6 separate regions of the Homo sapiens genome follow, and all the other regions are reported to be linked to region 2. The links are microRNA targets in miRTarBase. Many come from high-throughput screens and were not tested one by one. Region 2 holds a microRNA gene; each other region holds the end of a gene's coding sequence.

The links. The annotated mature microRNA hsa-miR-185-5p reads UGGAGAGAAAGGCAGUUCCUGA and lies in region 2 at 1,251-1,272, shown strand. An mRNA with a match to its seed (bases 2 to 7 or 8) in the 3' UTR can be bound and repressed. Matches are read on the target gene's strand: a 7mer-m8 pairs with bases 2 to 8, a 7mer-A1 pairs with bases 2 to 7 and ends in A, and an 8mer does both.
Region 1: the mRNA of MRPL34 is a reported target of hsa-miR-185-5p. Seed matches in the 3' UTR shown: 7mer-A1 at 482-488 and 8mer at 717-724.
Region 3: the mRNA of ARHGEF6 is a reported target of hsa-miR-185-5p. Seed matches in the 3' UTR shown: 7mer-m8 at 487-493 and 7mer-m8 at 508-514.
Region 4: the mRNA of IQSEC2 is a reported target of hsa-miR-185-5p. Seed matches in the 3' UTR shown: 7mer-A1 at 1,513-1,519 and 7mer-A1 at 1,629-1,635.
Region 5: miRTarBase lists OAS2 as a target of hsa-miR-185-5p. Seed matches in the 3' UTR shown: 7mer-A1 at 2,986-2,992, 8mer at 2,907-2,914 and 7mer-A1 at 1,855-1,861.
Region 6: the mRNA of NFATC3 is a reported target of hsa-miR-185-5p. Seed matches in the 3' UTR shown: 7mer-m8 at 3,191-3,197 and 8mer at 2,531-2,538.

The regions. Positions count from the first base shown.
Region 1 is chr19:17,306,011-17,310,111 of GRCh38, forward strand. MRPL34 (mitochondrial ribosomal protein L34) reads left to right here. Exons shown (of 2, transcript NM_023937.4): 2 at 156-833. The coding sequence ends at 369. It overlaps DDA1 (DET1 and DDB1 associated 1), which reads left to right and starts at 3,553. Exons shown (of 5, transcript NM_024050.6): 1 at 3,553-3,647. The coding sequence starts at 3,645. RefSeq lists silencers at 116-175, 3,769-3,868 and enhancers at 2,856-3,417, 3,139-3,328, 3,418-3,981.
Region 2 is chr22:20,031,903-20,036,005 of GRCh38, forward strand. It overlaps MIR185 (microRNA 185), which reads left to right and starts at 1,237; the gene lies at 1,237-1,318. The region is part of intron 1 of TANGO2 (transport and golgi organization 2 homolog); the gene reads left to right. RefSeq lists enhancers at 382-601, 2,285-2,354.
Region 3 is chrX:136,664,294-136,668,396 of GRCh38, reverse strand. ARHGEF6 (Rac/Cdc42 guanine nucleotide exchange factor 6) reads left to right here. Exons shown (of 22, transcript NM_004840.3): 22 at 228-2,847. The coding sequence ends at 368. Among named protein-coding and RNA genes, the nearest start is that of CD40LG, 18 kb to the right of the region's middle. RefSeq lists an enhancer at 2,023-2,112.
Region 4 is chrX:53,230,600-53,234,701 of GRCh38, reverse strand. IQSEC2 (IQ motif and Sec7 domain ArfGEF 2) reads left to right here. Exons shown (of 15, transcript NM_001111125.3): 15 at 1-1,826. The coding sequence ends at 483. Among named protein-coding and RNA genes, the nearest start is that of KDM5C, 7.4 kb to the right of the region's middle.
Region 5 is chr12:113,008,734-113,012,836 of GRCh38, reverse strand. It overlaps OAS2 (2'-5'-oligoadenylate synthetase 2), which reads right to left. Exons shown (of 10, transcript NM_002535.3): 10 at 1,114-3,750. The coding sequence ends at 3,582. Among named protein-coding and RNA genes, the nearest start is that of OAS2, 32 kb to the right of the region's middle. RefSeq lists an enhancer at 2,986-3,155.
Region 6 is chr16:68,225,716-68,229,715 of GRCh38, reverse strand. NFATC3 (nuclear factor of activated T cells 3) reads right to left here. Exons shown (of 10, transcript NM_173165.3): 10 at 457-3,366. The coding sequence ends at 3,245. ESRP2 (epithelial splicing regulatory protein 2) reads left to right here. Exons shown (of 15, transcript NM_024939.3): 15 at 1-683. Among named protein-coding and RNA genes, the nearest start is that of MIR6773, 5.8 kb to the left of the region's middle. RefSeq lists an enhancer at 2,230-2,279.

The sequences.
Region 1 (4,101 bases), not on the chromosome of region 2:
GGCTGGCGCCACTCTTCACTGCCCGCGTGACCTGCCAGTGCCTTGCGCATTTTGCAGCCAGGCTCTGTCTCCGGGAGCCGAGGCTCAGAGAGGTTGAGCGCCAAGGTCACCCAGCGCCCCGTCTGACCTTTCTCGCCGTCCCTCTACCCACGCAGGTGGCTCCAGCCCCGGGCCTGGCTGGGGTTCCCAGACGCCTGGGGCCTCCCCACCCCGCAGCAGGCCCGGGGCAAGGCTCGCGGGAATGAGTATCAGCCGAGCAACATCAAACGCAAGAACAAGCACGGCTGGGTCCGGCGCCTGAGCACGCCGGCCGGCGTGCAGGTCATCCTTCGCCGAATGCTCAAGGGCCGCAAGTCGCTGAGCCATTGAGGATCGCGACGCAGTCGGCGGGACCCTCATGGAAGCATCGCCCTCGCCTCGGACCTTGCCTGGCGCTATTTTTGCAGGGAGCTGGGGAGCAGGAACGCCTCGGACCTGAGTGCTCTCCATATTGTGGGGTTGAAGTCTGGATGGGAGCTTGCCAAGTCCCTTTTTAGGCTTTTTAATTAGGAAGCATTTCGAACCTGCGCAACAGACCAAAGAACAGTACAAAGAACATCCGTGTACCCAGTACCCTGACTACCGACTACCTACAACCCGTCCCTGCCCCATCCTGAGTTCTTTTGAAGCTGATCTCAGGCATCGGATTATTTCTTCTGTAAATATTTCAGAATGTATCTCTCCAAGATGAGAGCTCATTAAAAGACAATTACAAAGCTTATCACATCCAAAAGAATTATCAATAATTTTGAAATATTATTAAACGTGTAATAAATGTTCAAAGTTCCACTTGCCTTATATGTGTCATAACTCTTTTTTTTTTTTGAGACAGTTTCCCTTTTGTTGCCCAGGTTGGAGTGCAATGGGGGGATCTCGGCTCATTAAAACCTCCGCCTTGCGGGTTCAAGCGATTCTCCTGCCTCACCCTCCCGAGTAGCTGGGATTACAGGCATGCGCCACCACGCCCGGCTAATTTTGTATTTTTAGTAGAGATGGGGTTTCTCCATGTTGGTCAGGCTGGTCTCGAGCTCCCGACCTCAGGTGATCCGCCCTCCTCTGCCTCCCAAAGTGCTGGGATTACAGGCATGAACCACTGCGCTCTGTCCCCCAGGCTGGAGTGCAGTGGCACGATCTCGGCTCACTGCAAACTCCCTCTCCTGGGTTCAAGCAATCTCCTGCCTCAGCCTCCCGAATAGCTGGGATTATAGGCGCCCACCACCACACCCGGCTAATTTTTGTATTTTTAGTAGAGACGGGGTTTCAACCATGTTGGCCAGGCTGGTCTCGAACTCCTGACCTCAGGTGATCTGCCTGCCTCGGCCTCCCAAAGTGCTGGGATTACAGGTGTGAGCCGTCATGCCCAGCCTGTGTCATAAATTTTATAGGTCTGGGAAGACTGGTGGAAAACTGTGTGTGTGTGCGGGGGGGTGTTTGTTTTTGAAACAGGGTCTCGCTCTGTCACCCAGGCTGGAGTGCAGTTGTCGGATCCCTGCTTACTGCAACCTCTGCCTCCTGGGTTCAAGCAATTCTGGTGCCTCAGCCTCCCAAGTAGCTGGGATTACAGGTGCATGCCACCACGCCCAGCTAATTTATGTATTTTTAGTAGAGGGGAGTTTCACCATGTTGACCAGGCTGGTCTTGAACTCCAGCCCATAAGGAGTTTGAATCTTCCACTTGTCCCTTGGGGATGTTTGATTTTGAGCAAGAATTTAACACTGTGAGGTGCATTTGTCGCCTATAAAATGCAGTGCTGGTTTCTCCTCTGCTCTGTTGCTGTTGGAGTAATAATACTTAGTAGCTTCCACTTAGCAACTTCACTGTGCAATTGCTGTGTGCTGGGTGCCCATTCTTTGCCCTGGAAGTCAGGAAGGCAGTTTGGACACAGAGGTGTCAGGGCTGGGAGGGGGATTGTGAGGGCTGTAGGACTTCAGGGAAGGTACCTGACTTGCCTTTTTGAAGAATGCAGTCAGGGAAGTCTTGGAGGAAATGGCAAGGTCTGGGAGAGCCCAGACATAGAAGGAATTGGTTAGAGGTGAGGACACAGGTGGGCAATGAAGACCGCAGGTGCCCATAAATGGGGCCAAGGAGGTGGGATTGAATACTAGGGAGTTACGGGAGGTGGTTGAGCAAGACGGTGTCGAGGAGGAGCTAGGGAGTGTTATGGTTCTTATCTTCTAGGGCTGCTTTAAAAACGTAATAAACACAAGAAGATGCCGGCACGATGGCTCCCAGAACTTTGGGAAGCCAAGTCTGGAGGATTGCTTGAGGCCAGAAGTTCGAGACCAGCTTGGGAAACATAGCAAGACCCCTGTGTCTTTTTTTTTTTTTTCTTTTGAGAGGGAGTTTAGCTCTTGTTGCCCAGACTGGACTGTAGTGGCTTAATCTCGGCTGACTGACACCTCCGCCTTCTGGTTTTAAGCGATTCTCCTGCCTCAGCCTCTTGAGTAGCTGGGATGACAGGCGCCCGCCACCACGCCCGGCTAATTTTTGTATTTTAGTAGAGATGGGGTTTCACCATGTTGGCCAGGCTGGTCTCAAACTCCTGACCTCGTGATCCGCCCGCCTCGGCTTCCCAAAGTGCTGGGATTGCTGGGATTACAGGCGTGAGCCACCGTGCCCCGCCTTTTTTTTTTTGAGACAGAGTCTCCCTCTGTCCGCCAGGCTGGAGTGCAGTGGCGCGATCTCAGCTCACTGCAAGATCCGCCTCACTCACGGTTCACGCCGTTGTCCTGCTTCGGCCTCCGGAGTAGCTGGGACTACAGGCGTCCGCCACCACGCCCGGCTAATTTTTTGTATTTTTAGTAGAGACGTGGTTTCACCGTGTTAGCCAGGACGGTCTCGATCTCCTGACCTCGTGATCCACCCGCGTCGGCCTCCCAAAGTGCTGGGATTACAGGCGTGAGCCACTGCGCCCGGCTGGCTTTTTTTTTTTTTTTTTGAGACTGATTTTCGCTCTTGTTGCCCAGGCTGGAGTGCAATGGCACGATCTTGGCTCACTGCAACCTCCGCCTCCCGGGTTCAAGTGATTCTCCTGCCTCAGCCTCCCTACTAGCTGGAATTACAGGCGCAGAGATGGGGTTTCACCATGCTGGCCAGGCTGGTCTCGAACTGCTGACCTCAGGCGATCTACCCGCCTCGGCCTCCCAAAGTGCTAAGATTACAGGAGTGAGCCACCGCACCCGGCCGAACCTCGCATCTTAAAAACACACAGACACACAAAAGCTCTAGAGAGCCTCGCGGAGCTGTAAACTACAGCTCCCAAGAGACTTCGCGGCCGAGGCCTCCGCCCACTTCCGGATCTCACTTTCATTGCTTCCAAGTACCGGGAGGTGCTTTGCTTCTTCAACCGAACTTGACCACAATGGGAGGAGGCGTGGCAACCAATGGGCGCATGAGTTAGCTGGATGCGGCCAATGGAAGCGTGCAAAGCGCTCCTATGTGGGGGCGGGGCTAGACTGCACACCAATGACAGGGAGGTGGTGGCGCCATCAGTGTGGGCTGTGCCGTGGCTGGAAGTTACTGTGAGGCGGCGGCTAAGAAGGCGGCTCTGGTGGCGGCGGTGGAGGCTGAGGCGGCGGCCGAGGCGGCGACGGAGGAAACAGAAGATGGTGAGGATGGCCTCCAGGCCCCCACTCCCCCTCTGCTAGACAAAATGGCGCTGTGGTCCCACCCACCTCTAGTATCCCCCTAGGCCCCTCTCCGTTCTGCCCGGTCCCCTCAGGTCCGGCCCGCCCCTCCCACTCACCTGTGACCTTCGACCCCCGGACCCTACCGAGAGCTTCCTGCTGATCCCACTGCCACTCCTTCTCCGACCCCTGACCCCATCCAGGATACCAAGCCCTGACAACTCATTCATTTCCGGGTTGCGGCTCCCCCCGGAAATCGTCTGGGGTGGGGATGGGGTCCCGTAAGACCCCCTGGTCTGGCCTCGTTCTCAGCACGCCGGACCTGGATCTCTTCAGTTCAGGAGAATTTGGGAGGCCGGCCTGGGCCCCGGGGCGGGGGAGGGGGCTTGGCACCGCGATATGCAGGGCTTTGTCGCCAAAGGAAGTGCGACATCGC
Region 2 (4,103 bases):
CCCACTTGATCCCAGCATCCCACGTGTGCCTGCTCGGGGTGGCCAGCTCACTGCTTCTTCACCTCTAGCCCAACCAGCAGGTGCCCCACCATGAGCCCCTCCAGGCTCACCTTGCCCATCCCTGCCATGTGACCTGGGACTCTTGAGATGAGATCACAGCTGCAGAGCACACAGCACAGGGAGGAGCTCATCAGCATCTTCCCACCTGTGGTGCCCTGGCCCAGCCTCCTTCCGGTTGGGGTTGGACCCGCCCTGGCAGCCAGGTTTTGCGTCACCTGCCCCACCCGCCCTGTAACCTACTTGCCCAACTGCTATCCCGGTGGCCGTGAGGCCAGTTGACAGAATGGAGAGGGGTAAGCATTTTCCGCCTGGAGAGGATGGGCGTGTGGCCATCTGACTGCTTCTGCAAGCCTGGTGGTTGTGTGCAGGCTGCCCTGGTGGTCTTAGCCCCTTGGGGCAGGCGGGGTCCTGTGCAGGATGCAGAGACTGGGCGTGGCTTCCTGCAGATGTTCAGATGCTTCTGGGCTGTGGCCTCTGAGACCCAGGGCAAGGCTGCTGACTGGACCCCAGACCCTCCTGCCTGCCTCTTCCTCCAGCTGCTCTTTGTGGTCTGGTTCTGGCCGCCTGGGCCTCAGGGCCAACCCTGCATGGCTTTGACCACTCTGGCCTTCTTGGACTGCCAAGGACATGCTGAGAGTTGGTTGGGCTTGGCCCAAGTGCTGAGCCCAGGGCAGGGGTGGGGACAGGCAGGGCGGAGCCTCACCTGGAAAGCCAGGCACGATTCTCCCTGGGACACCAACCCTCCTGTAGAGTTGGCCAATTCGGGCAACCTTGAGGGCGAGCTCTGTGTGGCACAAGAGATGCCCTGAGGAGCCCAGCCTCACCTGGTGTGATGGGACCTGTGGAAGTTGTGGGAAGTGGTCCTGGCCACCCGTGTGCCCACATGCCCTGCGCCCAGATCAAGATATGGTGACCAAAAGGACAAGGACTATATCCATGGCTCCCTCCCAGAGCCTGGCAAGTCAGCAGGCATGAGAGGGTGTTGGAATGCTGTGGTGGGCCTGTGTGGGGACCTTGTAGGACCTAGGGAACCTGCAGGGCTTGGCTTAGGGAGCACACAGGGGCCCAGGCAAAGGCAAGGTCACAGGTCGGGGGAGGTGAAGCTGGCAGGGGGAGGGGGAGACCTGCTGGCTAGAGCTGGGTTGGGGGCCGGTGGGCAGTGGGCCTGGCTCGAGCAGGGGGCGAGGGATTGGAGAGAAAGGCAGTTCCTGATGGTCCCCTCCCCAGGGGCTGGCTTTCCTCTGGTCCTTCCCTCCCAATGACCGCGTCTTCGTCGAGGCCACAGCCCTTGGCTCTGCGCCCACACCTCCAGTGCCAGGCTGTCCGGAGATCTGTTTATGGCCTTCCCTTGGACCATGGAGCCCTCCCTGCCACTGGTGCCTGGAGGGCTGGTCTGCTGCCCCTGCACCCTGGCCAGCTAGGATGGTGGGGTCCTGCAGCTGAACTGGGGGTGCCTTTCTGCCTGTCTGTCCTACGTGTATCAGTGGCCAGAACTGCCCTCATCCATGGCCTTGCCAGCAGCTGGGCGTGCAGCCCAGGGAGGGCTGAGGTCGGCTGAAGTTGATTGAGACCAACGGCCTTCTCTAACACCCCAGAGGAGCATGTCCCTGGTGAGCAGGCCTTGGGCAGCCCTGGGCTCCAGGCCAGTGGGATTCCAGTAGAGACCAGCTGGCAGGGCTTCTCCAGTGACTGCAGCCAGGGGTTCTCATGTGCAGGAAAGACCAGCTCCTCCAGAGTAAAGGGACTTGTGTCTTCTGGCCACATGGTGAGTGCTGGGCCCACCCCATCAGTGGCACCTTGGGTGCACTCCCAAAGCCCAGCGTGTTCCCCATCTTCCTGCACTGCATTCGGGATGGTTCTGCATCATCAGCTGCACCTGATTGCTCTTAAACCCACAGCTGAGCTTTAATGTGCAGTCACTGAAGCTTTCATTTCTAAAATAGCTTCCTAAGAGTTCTTTTGGCCAGGCATGGTGGCTCATGCCTGTAATCCTAACACTTTGGGAGGCCGAGGTGGGTGGATCACCTGAGGTCAGGAGTTGGAGACCAGCCTGACCAACATGGAGAAACCCCGTCTCCACTAAAAATACAAAATTAGCTGGGCGTGGTGGCGCATGCCTGTAATCCCAGCTACTCGGGAGGCTGAGGCAGGAGAATTGCTTGAACTCGGGGGGCGGAGGTTGCGGTGAGCCGAGATTATGCCAGCCAGCCTGGGCAACAGGAGCAAAAACAAAACAACAACAACAAAAAAAAACCGAGTTCCTTTTGCTGCTTTGTAAACCCAGTTTGCTCTTCATCACTTCCTTTGCCCTGCAGATGTTTCTGAGCTGTCTGTTTTCTTTCTGCCATCAGAGCATGGTTGGTTGATGATGCATGTACGGTTATCTTTCTGCTGGTTCTTGCTCATGGTGCTTCTTTCATTATGTGGTTCTTTCTGACTATGTACTGCTTCTGGTCTTTGAAAAATGATTTTGAGACTTCTTTGAAGTATAGGATGAAGGTATCTTTCTCCAGAGAGAACTTCAGGCACAGGGGCACTACGAGTGCTGGAACCCCTTAAAACTGTGCTTGGCTTGTGGGTCCTTGTACCCCCAGTGTGGACCTGGACGGCTGGCTGTGCCACAGCTTCTCAGAAACTTCCCTTCACTTATGTGCAATGTCCCCATAACCCCTGGGGGTGGCTGCGGCTGTAGTTCATCTCTCCCTAAGCATCGCTCTTTGGAGTCCCAGCCTAACTTAGAGGAGAGTCTTCTGTTAGGTTCTTCATCCTGTGGGGGTGACTGGACCTTGTCTTCTGTCTCCTTCGCCCCCGAGGCCACCAGAGTATGAGCCCCAGTGTGTTCAGTGGGCAAACGCTCTCAGGCAGGATTGGCCACTGTGTTCTGCTGTCCTCTGTGGGCCACGCTCTCCGAACTGTTGGCCAAATGCTGCATGAGCTCATCAGCTCCTGGCAATTTTTAAGATGTTTTCATATTTCATCCAGCATCTTGAGTTGTTTTTACCAAAAGGATTGCCCCTAGTAGCCTGCCCACCCTCGGATGATGGCCCCCTGTGGGCGCTTCCAGGGCACCCGGCAAGGGGACCCAACCCACTTCCAGCCCCACAGTCTGCTTCCCACAGGGCCCCCTTGCAACAACACACCCTTTAGCTTCCCATCCTATGCAGAGTGGTGGCCAGCAGACCATCTCAAATGGCTGCCCATCCCCCTGACCCAGTGCGTCTGCACGTGGCGCTTATTGCTATCCCAATACTTCAACTGCACAGCCACCAGCTCCTCACTGGAGCAGATGGTCCCCAATGGCCATCCCTAATGCCCGTGCCTATGGAGGCACATACACTGAGCCCTCTTCACCTCCGTCCCCACTCATTAGACTTTTCTCAGAGGAATCTTTTTGGGTCTCTTCAGTATTTGAACAGCTTCTTGGCTGTCCCATGTCCCAGCTGTGAGCACTGGCTCTGCCCTGGAGCCGTGTCACTAAATCATTGCACATGTGCACATTTCAGGGAACTTGGGTGTCACCCTTGGGTGGCCTCGGAATCTAATCTCCGTTCTGCACTCGTTTGCATTGTGGAAAACTGCCTGCTCTGGGCCCCAGAGGTCCCTGGGTGGGGACGAGGTGTATGCTAAGTGTGCAGTCACCCAGCGTGTCCCCGGCACGTGTCCATGCCAGCTGCTGTGGGTGTGTGGGGCCTTCGGGTCCTGTGGGATGGCGAGTGTGTGTGCTGAGCAGGACCTGTAGGGCCTGCATCCCAGGTGAGTGGGCCATGCTGTTGGAGGCGGAGGCAGGGCTGCCCCCACTGGTGGCGTGTGGGGTGGGTTTGGTGCTGTTGCAGGGGAGGAGATGTGCATGTGGGGGACAGTCTTGAAGGAAGAATGTATACAGTGGTCTATTTCCAAGACAAAGTGTCTTAAATTGGCTTAGCTCAGCAAACTACAGAAGAAACAGGATATACTAGGCCACCCTGCTTGGATAGCTGATGTGTGCTTGTCGGCCTCCACTTTCCCCGCACTTAGTTGCCTTCACCCGAACCAAAGAAGTTCAG
Region 3 (4,103 bases), not on the chromosome of region 2:
GAAAAGCAAGTTAAATTAGAAGAGGATCAGGGCAGGGAAGAAGAATCCAAAAGGTTTCCCAGAGACAGGCAGGAGAATCGACAGGCTGCTTTGTCATAGATGCTGAGGGAGGGAAGGTCGAGGAAAGAAAGAGAGTCAGTGATGAAAGCTGCCCCGAGGATGAGCAGGAGGAGCCCTTGGAAGGGCCCCCCTCTGTTTGATAATCAACAAATCTTTCCCCATCATAGGAAAATAAAAGAATGAAGCAATGCCTGGAAGAAGAACTGAAATCAAGAAGGGACCTAGAAAAGCTGGTGCGGAGGCTTTTGAAGCAAACAGATGAGTGTATTCGAGGCGAGTCCAGTAGCAAGACCTCAATTCTTCCATAACCATCACTGTGCCACTGGGTGGAGTGTGCCTTCAGGGCATCTTGAAATGTCCCGCTGAATGATTTGACTCAGTTTGCTCACTTCTTTGGCTTTTGTTTTGTGTTTGAGTCTCTCTCTCTCTCTCCCTCTCTCTTCTCTTTCTCTCCCCGCTGTGTGCATATGTGTGTGCGTGCACGTGCGCGCTTGGGCATTTGCTGTTGTTTGGTTATTGGTTGGTTGTTCATTTTTTTTTTCAACAGGTGAAAAAGCAGGAAGTGGTGGTAGAGATGGCCTCAGAGTCTTTTCCATTCAGTAAGAAAGAGAAAGGGAATGCAGGCCAGTTACTTAAAAGGTCTTCAGATTGCCTTCAGTTCACAGTGCCTCTGCAACAGCCATTGCCCTCAGGTCACATTCTTTGGGCTGGCTGCCCTTGCAAAGCAGCTGGCCAAGGCTTATTAAATGTGAACCCAACTTTTCCCCAGGGCTTTCCTGTACCTGCAAGCCTCTTAGTACTTAATTTACCGAAGGCAAATCTTCCAGACTATGGCTTGAGTAGGATGAAAGACAAACACATCTGCCCAATGATCCAGCTGCCCTTCCTTAGACCATCACATGCCTCCCCTCAATCACAGGTTTTAAAATTACTGCCCTATGTTGTCTATAAGACCAAGAAAACTGTAGTACCCTTATTCCTTTTGTGTCATGTAAATTGTAACTCAGGGGGGCAGAAGCTCTGGTCACCCACACCAACACCAAATCCATCAGCAAATTCTACTGGACAATCCTCCCTTTTAGTAGCAGAGTTGACCGCCTTTTCCCATTGCATGATAGGTTTCTTTCCCTCATTCTGCCTAGTGTGTAAGTTTTCTATTTCCCCAGTACTTTTAGCCAACCTTACCAAGTGGTGTGTAAACTAGTATGTATGTGCTTTGCTTACTTTTTAAAAAAATGTAGTTAGACTGTGAGGAGTTACTTTATGTACGTTGCATATTCAAACTGTGATGTTTTATCCTTCAAAACAATCTGCATTAAGAAGATATTGTGCCCTACTAGACAGCTTTCATTCACTTTATTACTCTCTCATATATGCTGTGAGAAGTTGTAATATTAATTGGCCTCTTTGGGTGGGACTCTAAGCAGTATTTGCAGAAATATGCTTCTGGTCCAACTTGTACATCCAGAACAAAAGGGCCCCTCTAGTAGCTGTGTGCTGGATTATTCAGGACTGATTAACTCAAGTTGCTCATTGAATCACATCATCCACTTTATCCCAGAAACTAGAACTGTGAGAAACCAGGTTTAGAAGACAGTCACAGAACAGCACACATCCAAATTCAGCGCCATTGAAAGTTGGCCTAAGGCTCAGTGCCACTCACCCCTCCCTCCCCAAAAGACAAGAGAAATTTGGCCAGATGGGGAAGGTCACTGGAAATTGAGGCCAAAGGGCTGATCAGAATTGCCTTTATAATATATTTGATGGATGCCTATAAATGTGGGTTTTGCAAATATTGTTTAAAAACCAAACTTGAAGCCAGGCATGGTGGCCCACACCTGTGGTCCCAGCTACTCAGGAGGCTGAGGTGGGAGGATCATTTGAGCCCAGGAGGTCAAGGCTGCAGTGAGCTGTGATGACACCACTGCACTCCAACCTAGGTAACAGAGAGACACCTCTGTCTCTGAAAAAACAAAACTTGAAGTTTGAAACCCCCAGCTTGCTGAGGAGCCCTTTTTATTTTTGGTACTGAGAGTCTCAAGGTCCCATAGCTACATGGTACAGGGCTGTTGTCTGCTTGCTGCACAGCAGAAATTACACCATCCACAGGAAATGGACTATTTTTGCAGTCCAACATCAGCCAACCACACACAGCCGTGTTTGGAAGCTGAAGAGTAAAGAAATTTCTAGGAATGGCTGTTGTTCTGTTTTTTAGCACAGCCATTTAGATATAACATCCTTCACTTAAAAATTAAAAACATCAGTACTACCACCACCACCAACAACATCAACACAGATCTTCACATCTGCCCATTCTGTGGTTAGTCAATGGCTTGCAATAAATGTGCAAACTGCATCTATAGGAAACATTTTTGTGATTACGGAATACTTTAGTTGATTGCTGAAAATATTGAAAGGTCTTCATTTTACAGTGATGAGTACATATGCATGTTTCGGGGACTTGGCCCTTCTGATGAGGGGCCCTCGGTACTCTGGATAACGAAGCTTGTGCAGAGTGGTAACCATGCTTACACACTAAACTATAATATAAAGGAAATGAAGCCATGTTAATCTGAGAGCAGTGTCGCCATAGTTGTGTTGTTTACAATACTCTATAAATGGGTTCCTGTTGCCCTGTAATTAAACTGCTGCCCGTAGAGGCCTTTCAGTTCCTTTTCTGTCCTTCCCCTTCTTAACACAAGCTCAAATTTTCTAACTTGTTTTTATTTTGAAGACTTTTAAAATGGACATTTTCAATACATAAAAATAAACAGTGCTTTATAAAAATAAGTCTTTTGCTTCTTTTTTTGCTAGCCGGTGTGCAGAAAGATTTCTTGTGCTGTGTCAGCTTCCTCTCCCATTTCCCTCATTAGCTAGTCTGCTCTCACCAAGCCCTCTAGCCAGTCTCAACCTTTTTCACTCAGGGCAGATGACATTTGCTCCCAACTTTACAGAGATAATACATGCCCTGAGACAGAACCTTCCTTAACTTCTCTACCTCTCTTCTTCTGGCCCAAACCTATAAATTATATCCCTGCTCACCATCTGCTTTTTGATATTAGAGAAAAATGTATTTTCCTGCTCAAGCTTATCCCTTGATATTTATTCCTGTCCTGATTCCTCTTTGAATTTGGCAGGATTTTGTCAATCAGTGATAATCCTATATTTTGACCACAGTTGGAATGCTGGTGTCAGCACTCAGGATGGAAATATTCGTTCCACTTAAAGATTGATGAGGTGGAAATTATCTGCTGCTCCACATGCATTCCTACCCCTTTTCTGTTTCTTTCCAAAAACATAAAGGCTGAAAAATCAATTTCCCAGACTCCCTTGCAGCTAGGGTTCTGGATAAAATGTGGGTTCAGATACATGTTCACTTCTGCCAACAAAATTTGGAAGGCTTAAGTTGGGCAGAGGCTATCTTCTTGGGGTTTGGTGGCCAGCAGGTGATTCCAAAGATGTGTTTGTGGCTTCTGTACTCCACATTCCAGTGTGTCTATTCACAGCTTTGTGAGTGAGAGACTGTAGTGGTGGCAGCAGCCTCCTAACATGTGGATCACAACTGCAATGATATGACCTTGAAGCCATTAGTCCAGTGGCAGCCTCCTGACTTCCCCTGACTTCCACTTATGTAGCCCAATGGTTTTGTAGACAACTGATTATCTTTCTGCCTGAGATACCTTCAGTGGTTTATGATTCCTGCTCTGAGCCAATAGATAGAACATGGCATCTCATGTGTGCTAGGCACTGTACTAAGTGGTTTACACGATTAAGCTCATGTAAGCCTCACAACAACCTTATTAAGTATTTACTATTGTTATCTCCACTTACAAATGAACAGAGGCACAGAGATGTTGAGTAACTTGCTAGTACATGGTGGAGCTGGAATTTGAAACCTTAGTCTGTCTGACTCTTGGACCCATGCTCTCTCTATCACGTATCCTCCTGCACACTTGGTACATGCTAAGGTTCCTACCTTAGCCATCCACCTTTGTGAAGTCACTATTAAGCTTATAATTGACAAATCCATTGGCTTTTCGATC
Region 4 (4,102 bases), not on the chromosome of region 2:
CCAGGGCCCCAACACTATACCTTGGGCCGGCCAGGCAGGGCACCCAGACGGGGGGCTGGAGGACACCCTCAGTTTGCTCCACATGGCCGCCACCCCCTGCACCAGCCCACATCCCCACTGCCCCTGTACAGTCCTGCCCCCCAGCACCCTCCAGCCCACAAACAGGGCCCTAAGCACTTCATCTTCAGCCACCACCCACAGATGATGCCAGCAGCAGGCGCGGCTGGGGGCCCTGGATCCCGGCCACCAGGGGGCTCCTACTCCCACCCCCACCACCCCCAGTCACCATTGTCACCACACTCACCCATCCCACCCCACCCCTCCTATCCACCCCTCCCCCCACCCTCCCCTCACACCCCGCACTCACCCCTTCCACCCACCTCCCCCCATGGCCCGCTGCACGCCTCTGGGCCCCCTGGCACAGCCAACCCCCCCAGTGCAAACCCCAAGGCCAAGCCAAGCCGGATCAGCACCGTGGTCTGATGAATGGAGAGAGTGAGCTGGGGAACAGGAAAGTCTGGGGAGCCACAGGAGAGGGACCTTGCACCCTCTTTGCTTCCTCGGTTTTTTCAAAAATATATATACACATAGCAATGTCCTCCTCCCCATGTCCTCCCTGCCTTGGGACCCGTCCTCTCACCCCCAGCAGTTGCCATGGGGTTTCCTTCCAGATTCGAGGATCCTTGCCACTTGAAGCCTGGACTCAGGGTGCTCCAGCGCTGGGGAGTGGTGAGGGCCTTCCAGAGATCCTCGTACTCTTTCTCCCGTCTTCTTCTTCCCCACTTTTCCCTGGAGGTCTAGCTCTGTGGCCTCAGACCTCTGGGCCTGTGTGAGCTCTCTGTGAGCTCTGGCTGGCGGAGAAGGGCAGGTGTCCGGAGCTGTCGGGGTGAAGGCTTCCCTGGGGCTCCTCTGGCCGTGTGGGGCTAGGAGAGCGCTCTGTAGAGTTGTGGCCAAACTTCAGCTGGCTTGGCCCTCTCTCTGACCTCAGGGCCTGGCCACACACTTCCATGTGTCTTTTTGCCTGCTGGAGGACACGGACCATTGATGCACTTGGTGGGTGGGACCCTGCTTGTGTTGGCCCCACGTGGGGCAGTGCTTCCTCTCTCGAGCCAGTCTATGCCCTTTCTCCAGTAGGCCCCAGCCCAGACCTCTTCGGCTTCAGGAACTTGCCTCGCCCTGCAACGTTCTTATCCTGATCAAAGTCCAGACAGGTTTTGGGGGGGGCTCAGGTCTGGGATGAGAAGGGCACTGCCCTCCCTCACCCATATTGCATGCCCCCCCGCCATTCCCTTACACCTACCCCACCTACAACTGAAGACAATGCACTTTACAGATATCACCCACACACACCTCGCTGGGGCAGGGGCACCCAGCATCAGCCCTGGGGAGAGAGGCTCCCAAAGGGCCACCATGAGCCCAAGATATCCTTCCTGAGGCAGAGATTGAAGCCATCAGAGCTGGGGTTGGGAGCCAGAATGCCTGAGTCCTTCTGTCCGTCAGAATCTCCGCTGCCTCTCCAGCCCTTTTGCAGCCCTGTTTATTTATTATAAATATATTTTTTACAAGCCCCAGCTCCTCTTCTTGCCCCGCATATCCAGCTCCTCACTCAGCTCCTGCCTCCCTCTCCCCTCTCCACCATGGGCTGCAGTATAGACAGACAGATGGACCCTGGCTGTACGAAGGGCCAGGGCCACTGGGGCTTGGGGGCGGGGGAGGGTGGCAGTGGGAGGGGCTGTATGGAGAGGAGCTGGGGTTCAGGCATTGTCTTTTTTCCTCCTTGTATATAAGAATGTATATTTGATGCCTCATAAAAGACCTTGTGCTCACCTCCTGCCTCTGCCTCCTACTTCTGCGCCCCTTCCCCACTGTGGAGCCCATGGAGAGAGGCCTTAGCCCAGGGAGGCAATGCGCTAATGGTAGAAATTCAGGCACCTGGGTGGACGAGATGCTTTGCTTGGAGGGAGGTGGGAGTGAGGGAGGTTTTCCTATCTCATTTCATACACAGTTTGTGCGACAGAGTGGCAAGAGTATGGGCTTTGGAGTTGATCCAGTTCACATCCTGGGGTTTTCACTTCCTAGGCATGTGAATTCGGGAGAGTCACCCTCTCTGAGTCTCAGTTTCCTCAGTGTAAAACTTGGGGTGATAAGCCATTGCCACATGGAGATATGATGATTCCCAGGGGTAATGGGTGCCAAGGAGCCAGGACAGAGCTGAGCAAGTTAGTTCCCTTGTCTTCGTTTCATAGGATGAATGCTTCCTTCCACTCTTGGGGCATCTCCTCTCACCCTGGATGTGGCTGGCCTGGCCTGGCCTTGGAGCTCCTCCTCATCCCCACAATGGCTGGCCACATTTCTATCCTTGAGGGTAGGGGAGTGATTTGGAAGGCACAGGGCTAGATACATTTTAAGAGTTCTGCATATACACTTAGGATGTCAGATAACAAAGAGCTGGACTCCCTTTCGTTTACAGAGAAGGGGACAGGCTGAGAGAAGGGAAGAGTCTCTCCCGAGGCCACTCAGCAAGTCAGGATGGGGTTTCCTGACTTCTAGCCCCAGGGCCCTTTCCAGTCCTCCCAAACCTCTTCCCTCCGAAACGGACGTGTTTCTAGCATCACTGATTATGTCCTGGATCTTAGCCTAGCGCAGGAGAAGTGGGGTTGAGCCATGGTTCTTGGTTAGAGTCAGCAGGGTCCCCAGAAGCAGCATTCAGTTACTGTTTTTGCTGCCTTCCTAGAATCTGGAATGGCCTCTAAAAGGGAATGGTTTGGATGGCCCCGCTCTTAGCAGCTCAGACCAATTCTTTGTTTTCTTCCTTGTATGCATGTTTAAAGGTGTCCCAGGGAAGACAACTAGCAAAAGCAGCAGCTGGGGCCACCTACGCATTTGATGCCGCCTCATGGACCAGACTTGAGGGTTTGAAGAGCTTAGACCCACAGGGTCCTGAATCAAGTCCAATCAACATTTTTTAGTTTTCTTCCCTGCTGGACCAAGCTGCACGATCATTTCCCCACCTTCAACTTGATTCTGGTTGCATTTTTCCAAAGCTCAGCTTTTAGCGCTCAAATCCTGGCTCGGTGACTTGCCTGTGCTGCATTTGGCAAGTCACCTAGCCCTTCAGAGCCTGGCCTTCCACCTGTAAGATGGGGATAACAACCTTGCAGGACAGTTAACAGATGCATGTGAAGTGCCTACCTCATGCCAGACACACAGTAAGCCACCTACAGAAACCCCTTATCTTGACATGGGAGGTGTTCCACAAGGTGGCCCAGCCAATCTCTGTGGTCCTAACTCTCATTCCTCACCCACACATTGGCCATCCACTTACTATTCCCCAAAAATGCCTCTGTGTACTTTCCAAACTCAGCATTTTACTTGTGGCTTTCCCCCCTGCCACAATACTCCCCCCAACATCCCTGATGAAGGTTTTCCCAACCCTTGCAAGATGGGCTTGAAGAACCCATCCTTCACAAAATGTGCCCTTCATCACATACTCTGAGATCCTTCCCCACCAGGCCTTAAGTGGCTTGGGAGTGACACTGGTCTGAATCATCTCCATCCAGAACATTGCCCCATATAGTGCCTGGCACAGCACAGATGGCACTAAAATTTTGTTGATCAAATGAATGAATGAATGAATGGTTCTAAGTCTCAGAGTTAGATATCTTTGCATTGGTTGATTTATTGATTGATGCAACCTGTGTACCAAGTTTCCGGGCCCCTCTGGGAGCTCCTCATGCTTCCTTCAACTGTTTCCTACGTTCTTCTCCTCCAGTCCTCATTGCAGTCCCAGCGCTGGGCTGTCCATGCTCCTCACTCCCTCCACCCCTCCAGAAATGCACTGTCCAGACTGTGGAGGGGGTAGTTCATCTCCTCACCTCCCCATTTCTCTGAGGACCCAAAGACAGCAAGCCCACTGACTATTCTTACATCAAAGGTGCTGCTGCCAATCCCTCTGGGGATGCAGATGGGGACAGACAACACATAACAAAGAACAGAACTGCTTGAACCCGAGAGGCGGAGGTTGCAGTGAGCTGAGCGAGCTCGCGCCACTGCACTCCAGCCTGGGTGACAGAGCAAGACTCTGTCTCAAAAACAAACAAAC
Region 5 (4,103 bases), not on the chromosome of region 2:
TCTTGATTACTGTGAACATTTTATTCTCTTTGCTCTTAATGAGTTTAAATGTCTACTGAGTGCTGAGAAGACATTGATGAGAAAAACTGAAATGGTCCTGTTCTGCATTTGTATGGCTTTGAGCAGCTCACCTTTTTCTTTATGGTCTTTCTCATCATATACATCTCACTTGGCACGTGTGGTAAACTGCCCTTCATTTTTCTTTTCTTTTCTTTTCTTTTTTTTTTTTTTTGAGACGGAGCCTCACTTTGTTGCCCAGGCTGGAGTACAGTGGCGCGATCTCGGCTCACTGCAACCTCCGCCTCCCAGGCTTAAGTAATTCTCCTGTCTCAGCCTCCTGGGTAGCTGGGATTGCAGGCATCTGCAACCATGCCCAGCTAATTTTTTGTAGTTTTAGTAGAGGTGGAGTTTCATCATGTTGTCCAGGCTGGTCTCAAACTCTTAATCTCTAGTGATCTGTCTGCCTCGGCCTCCCAAAGTGCTGGGATTACTGGTGTGAGCCATCAAGCCTGGCCCTTCATTTTTCTTTAAGGGATTTAGGGCTATGTGTTCCAGTTCCTCCAGCCAAGCCCTGTGAGGATGGGGACAGCGTCTCACAGTTTCTGCTTCCGTGTTTCCTGCCTATGTATCTAGTGCAAGTTTGGGCATCCAGAAGGCCCTGGTAACTAGTTGTAGACTGAGTAGATGTGTACTTAAAGTGGTCATTCTTTCATTAAATGTTTTTTATCATTTAAAAAACTTTTTAAAAATTATTTTTGCCTTTTCTTCTCATGCTTGTTTCCTGTATTCTTCCATTTTTCAACATCTTCATATATATTTCTTTTGCCTGCATCCTGGACAAGAGTAGTGGTGCATTCCAACACCTAATCTGTGACACCAGCTGACTGTCCTGCAATTTAAGTCAAGTCTGGCACTGACTACCTGGAATGTGTGTAGATCCCACAATTTAAAGAGCAAGGTCCTCACCAAGTCCACCCTTCTTTCAGACTCCAGCCATACATGGGGTCCCCAGGCTACCCACACCTCTGTCCGACTTGGTTACAAACTTGGGAGTTTCCATGACTTTCCTTCAGTTTTGATAATTTGCAGAATGACTCATAGAACTCAGGAAAATGCTCTACTTACAATCACCATTTTATTATAAAGAATACAAATGAAGAGCCAGACAAAGAGTATGTAGGGTGGCAAGCACTGGAAGGGCCCAGAGCTCAGGAGCCTTTGTCCCTGTGGAATCAAGATGCGCTACCTTCCTAGTACATTGGAATGTCTGCCAATCAGGAAGCTCCCCAAGCCTCACTGTCCAGAGTTTTTATTGGGGTTTCTTTACATAGGCAGCATTGCTTAAATCACTGGCCATGTTAAAATTGAACTCAATTTCCAGCCCCATCACCTCCTTGGAGATTGGGGGTGGGATGGGGCTGAAAATTCCAATGCTTTAACCACATGCTTGGTCTTTCTGGCTTGGCCAACTCCTTCCTTGAAACTAAGGGCCCACCATGGGTAACCTTGTTAGCATAAACCCAGGCATGGGTGAAAAGGGCTTGTTATGAATACAAAAGACACTCCTATCAGGAAACTCTAGAATTTTTGAAGCTGTGTGCTAGGAACTAGGCACAAAATCCAGATACATTCTTTATTGTATCACAACTGGTATATGCAACAGTGATAAAAGTTTAAGTGAGGGTATGTGAGGTTAAAGCACCTAGACCTTCAAGTATCTTTAAGGCTAAAGCCCAAGGAAAAAGTCTTTTGATTTGGCAAGAGGATACTCCTGGGTGGGGGGGAGAAAGGCAGGCTCAGAAGGAAAAGACAACAGCCTCATATAAATATGACAACAGTTATAATCTGAGCCTTTGGAGAGCTTGAAGTTCTAATGAAAGGGTTGGCTGGCTGCTGGCATAGAGGATGTCTGTGTCAGCAGGGGCAGAAAGGGTTTTGTATACAGAGGAAACAGACAGGACGTGGATGAGTTGGAAGCACCGAGAGCAAGATCACAGAGTTATGAGAACCAAGGGGAAAGTAAAGAGCTTTGCTTTGAAGACACAGAGGATTCCTTTTTTAGACTGGAAGGAAAAAGGAGGAGCTAATTGGAAAAATACAAGAAAAAAAATACAAGTTGACAGAAATAAGATGCACATAAAGTGGATGACAGCAACTATTTTTAAAGGCAGGCTGCCTGCAGAGAGGGAGTTCAGCAAGGCAAGACTTTATGAAAGGGTTTGCAGTCTTGATTGATTTCAAGAAGTCCAAGAAGCAAGGGAAGGAGGAATAGGGACCATCAAGGGAAGAATGGATGTGAGTGACTCTTTCTCACGGTGAGCCGAGTCTTTAAAAGCGATTGCCAGATGATCTCTAGAAGTTTCTTTTAGAATTATTATTCAGGATTCTATGGCTTCTGGATGAGAACATCTCATTGACAATAGGATGGATCCTAGCTCCACAACTTCCTGGTGTCTGCATTGTCTAAAAAGAAAAACATACGTGGGAGAGCAATGTCTCCTAATAGTTACAATCATTGCTTAAAAGAGTTAGGGGAAAAAAGGGGGGACCTGTATCTGGGAAGGTAACTATTGCCAGAGACAATTTTTTGGTATTTATTTATAATGCATATCTTAATAATTAGAGCTAACCCCACGGTTGGCTTGGCCACCTCTTCCCTACATTCCCCCCAGGGTTGGGGTGTAGGGTTCCTCTAGTGCAAGGGTTCTCACCTAGGGCAGAAGACACATGATAAAGTCTCAAGACACTTTTAATTGTCACAACTGGGTGGCATCTACTGGGTACAGGCCAGAGATGCTGCTCAACATCCTACAATGCACAAGAGAGCCTCCAAACAAAGAACTGTCTAGCCCCAAATGTGAGTAAGTATCAAAGTTGAGAAATCCTGCTTTAAAGAAAGAACCTGGTGGAGAGAACCAAGTATATCTGGAGGGAGGATATCCTGGTGGAATATATCAGGTATATCTTGGTAGGTAGGGAGGGCTTTGGAGAGGTGTGGCAGACATCCTTGGGTGGCCAGTGCAACCCACGTCCACAGTCATCTTTGTAGCCACCTTCAAGTTACAGGTAGCCACATGACATTTCTGAGCAATGAAATGGAAGAAAATTTGCGGATGAAACTTCTAATAAAATCACTGTGTTCTTGACCTTTGGGTATCTTTTCCTTCTTCCTGCTTGGATTGCAAACCTGCCATCTGGAGGCACCGTGGCCGCTTTCAGGGCCATAAGTACTCAAATTAACAGCTAAAGAGGGTGGAGCCAAAAGCCAAAGGCAGAAAGATCTGTGAACCCAGGGGAACGTTTGACAATGTCTGAAGACTTTTGGTTGTCACTGGGAGAGGAGGGCTAGTGGCATCTACTGGGTAGAGACTAGGGATGCTGCGCAGCACCCTACAGTGCATGAATCTGGGGTTACCTGCCTGAGGATCACTTGTAGTGGGGGCTTAGGGGGCTGACCAGCTGTTTAAGCTCCTGTGAGCTGGGTTTCCTTTATTTGTGTCTGAGTTAATTTCAGGTTGCTACAGTAGGAGAAGTTCTTTGATTCAAGCCTGTTACAGGGCTATTTCCAGACAACGCCTCCTTTAGATGACTTTTACCGGCACTTTCCAAGGTGGTATTGGGTTTCCAGTCCCATCCTTGAAGCAGGGAGAGGATAACCATTCCTTTGCTTCTTTTGCCAGAAGATGCCAACACCAACGGTCCCCTCCACCCACGTCACCTGTGGGTTCGGCTGGGTCCAAGATCACAGGCCTGAATGAGAGGTTAGAAGGCATTAGGAGATTCCAAATCCCAGTGACTTCAGAATTTGGGGTCCATCCTATAATACTTTCAGCAATAAGACAATGTGTTCTTACAGCTTAGATGTCAGCAACTCAAATTTACTAGTAGGGTTCAAAGTAACTTTCTAGAGGCCGCGTGCAGTGGCTCATGCCTGTAATCCCAGCACTTTGGGAGGCTGAAGTGGGAGGATCACTTGAGGGCCAGGAGTTCGAGAACATCCTGGCCAACATGCAGAAACCCCATCTCTACTAAAAATACAAAAATTAGCTGGGCGTGGTGGTGCGCACCTGTAGTCCCAGCTACTTCGGAGGCTGAGGCAGGAG
Region 6 (4,000 bases), not on the chromosome of region 2:
ATCTGGACCTCAGAGACCATGTTGTGCCAGGGGTGGTCCCACCTAAAGATGCTAGCCCCTCTCCAGGTGGGCATAAGGAGTAACAGATGGCAAAACCACAAACTATTTTGATGGACTGTGCTGCAGTATCACCAGAAGACATTAGGGGGCAGTAGGCCCCCACACAAAACCTTCAGGCTTGAATTTTAAAGGGGAGGACTTTCTGCCAACTTTTCTTGTATGCCTTGGGAAAGCCAGTTGCCCTGAACCCAGCAGACACCATGGAATGTCCTTTGCACGCATTAAATGGTACAGAACTGAAGCCTCGGAAGCAATTTGGAACTCGATCTTCTCTTCCTTAAATGAAAAGTTATTGACCAAATGGACTTTTTAAAAGACACAGGACCCTTAACTTTGCCCCAAAGTGAGGGGCTCCACACCAACCCCAGGCGGAGGAACACTCAGACAGATTAAGGATACTGTTGACCTGTCACTGTTTATTATTTCAGCACTAAAACTGAGGAGCCTCAACTGCTGGCTCTTCTTCCCTTTGTATTTGTGTAAGGAGCACTGCACTCCCATAAAAGGTTTTAAAATACAAAATGTACAAGAACACACAATTCCAAGTGCTGTAAACATAACTGAGAACCAGTTCCTTTACTAAACATCCATTTTATAAAACACAAGGTTTCAATTTGAGCCCATCTGAGCCTTAAAGATCCATTCTGAATACCAAAAACAGGGCTTCACAGCCAGGCCCAGAAGAGGTCTGGTGATAATGGCTGGCCCTGGGTGGGGATAGTTTACACCCGGGCAGCAGCACCACACATGAACCCAAAGACATGTTCTTTTTAAAGCTGTTTTCAGCCATGTTTCTCTGTGCATCTCCAGTAAGCAGAAGGCTACCCATTCCATTCCTCAACCCAAGAGCTAGCACAGTTAGAGTAGGAGGGGGTGCGTACTAGCACGTGCCCAGTTGCTCAGTGCTGCTAGTAGAAATTGATTTGCATAGTCCAATGGATGTGTGCTTTAACACCACTATGTTGCACAAAAATTTAAGTCTTTATCTACAAAGCCAAAAAATATTGACTCTTAACACCAAAGCTTTTACAAAGCTGATATAAAACTGCTTACATAGTATACAAAGCTCTATTTTAAAATTTAATGTTTATTTTAAATAGGAAAGCATTTCTAGTGCTACAGGCATCAAGGTATTTAGAAGGCATCAAAATTTGGTGCATAGCAACTCTGGATCATAGAGGCTTTTAATTCTTGAGGGCACAAAGGGTATTGCAAGGGGAACTCTTGCAATAACCTCATGTGAGGCAGCTACACCAGGGGCAAAAGGGTAGGGGCAAGTCTGGCCATTTCTCTGGAATGTCAACCGAGAGGCCAACTTCTTGCCCCTCCAAAGGAAGCTGTGGGCGTCCAACCACAGGCCCAGAAGCAAATCTCACTATCCACATTCTGTGACACAACTCACTTTTCAAGAAAATTTGAAAACACCCAGCTCCAAGAGGGGCCACAGTGATCTGCTGAAGAATAGACCTTTTTCTCTAACTAACTTTAGGGGAGAAATCTAAAATATATTTTGTTTTTTTTAAAGACCATACTTCCTCATCCTGAGTCAACAGCTCCTAACCTACTGACAACAGGTGGTGGGCAATAGGCCAGCTCCCTTTCCCAGACCTGAACTGGCCTTAGTAGAGAGAGTCCTGGCATCAAGGGCCTGCAGTCTCCTGGAATAACAGCATCAGGCCTTCAACCAGCACACTGTCTCACATATAGGCACTCAAAAAATCTGCTTCCTGAATCAATGGAAGTATATTATTTCATTTGAAAGCATACTGCAAACTTCAGAGGCTCTGTAATGGGCCCAGGAACAGGTAAAAAAAATCCCATTAGGGAGAGGGGTAAGGGCAGGTTTTTTTTTTTTTTAAAGTACCCAACTCGGGTACCTCCTTTGGTAGACAGCAGGCTGCAGTTTCTGCTGGGCCCTGCCTTGGACACCAGTCTCACCAGCAGCAGCACCAGGGTGTCTTTGGTGTGGAGGGTCAGGTTATCACTTCTGGATGTGCTCAGAGCCTTCTGGGGAAAAGGCTGGTTTTTAGATCATACAGACAGGACAGGGTAGGCCAGAATCATTTCAGGCTATAAATAGAATGGCAGATAAGCCTTCCATGCCAGTGTGACTCTTAAAACCTTCCCATCTGGAGTCCTGTATTTTCTCTGCCCATGCTGATGTACTGCTCATTTGTGCTTTAGCTCTGCACACAGCCTGGCCTCTAGCTAGAGTTAGAACTGCAAAGCTGCCTAAACCACTGAGACTGGCTTCAAAGGTCACAGAACAGCCAAAGGCAGATGCTTCTGTTTGGAAAAGGTTCTACGACCAGATGACACAAACAGGAAGCGCACTCCACAGCCTACTAGTTTTTATGATGGCAAGAAATGAAAGTGACCAAGCTAGAACCCCACCATTCAGAGTCACCTTAAATGTAGCCATCTTACCCAGGGTCCTGAGGGAAAAAGCAATTTCAACATGGAGCCAGTATGGAGAGATTGCAAGATTACCTAGAAAGTTACCAAAAGGCTATGCTCTGGAATGTCTTTTTATATTCCAACACTTCAATGATGGAATGGTCTCTTCTCATTTTATCTAACAACAGTTTAGTTTTATAAAGAGGTATGAGCTACATTTGGCTTTATTTCCTATAAATCTATGAACGTCTTCAGGACACATGCTGACTTTCTGAGGCATAGGTGTGGGCTTGGGATATTTTTTTCTTTTTCTTTTTTTCTTTTCTTTTTTTTTCTTTTTTTTTTTTTTTTTTTTTTTTTTGCTTCTAGAAGGTCTTATCAAAAGTTCCTATTTTAAAAATTATCATAAAAACTAAAGGGCCCTTCAAATGACCATAAAGCAGTACAAATCACCAATCCTAGCTAAGTAACCAGGTCACCTGCAAAAGCAGCACCTCGGAAACAAGAGAGCCTGCTGCATTCACACTCAAAGCACCCATCATATAAAAGTATCCTAGTTAAATATAAAAAGCAAAGTTCATTTCCCCAAAGCTCAAACAGCCTATGCTGCTCCTGTTCTTTTGCCAAATCTACCCAAGGCCTGAGGTGGAGGAATGCTACTTTCCCCACAAATGGTGGGTCCCACTCCTGGCCCCAGACCTGAAGGCTGCAGAGTTGGAAACCCAAGGTCCAAGGAGAGAAACATGCTGAGAAGTTGGTGGTGGACACAAGGCTGCAGTAAGCACTGTTAGAGCCCATCAGATCTTCCTAAATCCAGGGACTCAGGACTCGGGAGGGGAGCCTGCCTGCTCACCCCTGCTCCTTGGGAAACAGAAATCTGGGACATGTCTCTCCCAATTATCTCGTTCACTGAAAAACAAGAAAAGGGAGAGTGATTAGTGACCTCTGAGTGATTAGCCATATGATGCCCAACGCTGAGCTCTACCTCAGACATTTCCCTTCCCATGGCTTTCTGTAAAGATAAAGGCAGTGTCTGAAGCCTGCTCCTGAGCTGAGTGGCATTAGAGATGGAAACATCGCTCCACAAACTACTCTGGACCTCTTTTTCTCTCTCATTCAGTTCATTTTGGGTTGGGAAGGGGGCTTACCCTCACTCTAAAGGTATGTTTAAATAAGTATTCACCTTACTCTAACTTTTCTTTAATTCATATCTCTTTGAGAAAGTTTTTATTTTCTACAATGCCACCTCCTATGTAAATGGAATGAAAATAAATGCTTTGGTCAGAATAAACCACTGTGATGTGGGGGTGATTTTGCTACTGTATCCTAATACAAGCACTCTTTATTATGTGGGGGCATTTCTGTTGTTTGTGATCTTTTCTGATTGGAGGCTCTAGCTTTTCTGTTAATTTCTCTGATGTCCTAAGCATCTCAGGGAGGTACAGTGCTCTGTGAGGTCCAGAGCAAAGAATTTCCATCTTACAGAACTAACATAGAAGGGAACATCCCAAATCCCCCAAATAAGAACCTTTAGTTCTCACAT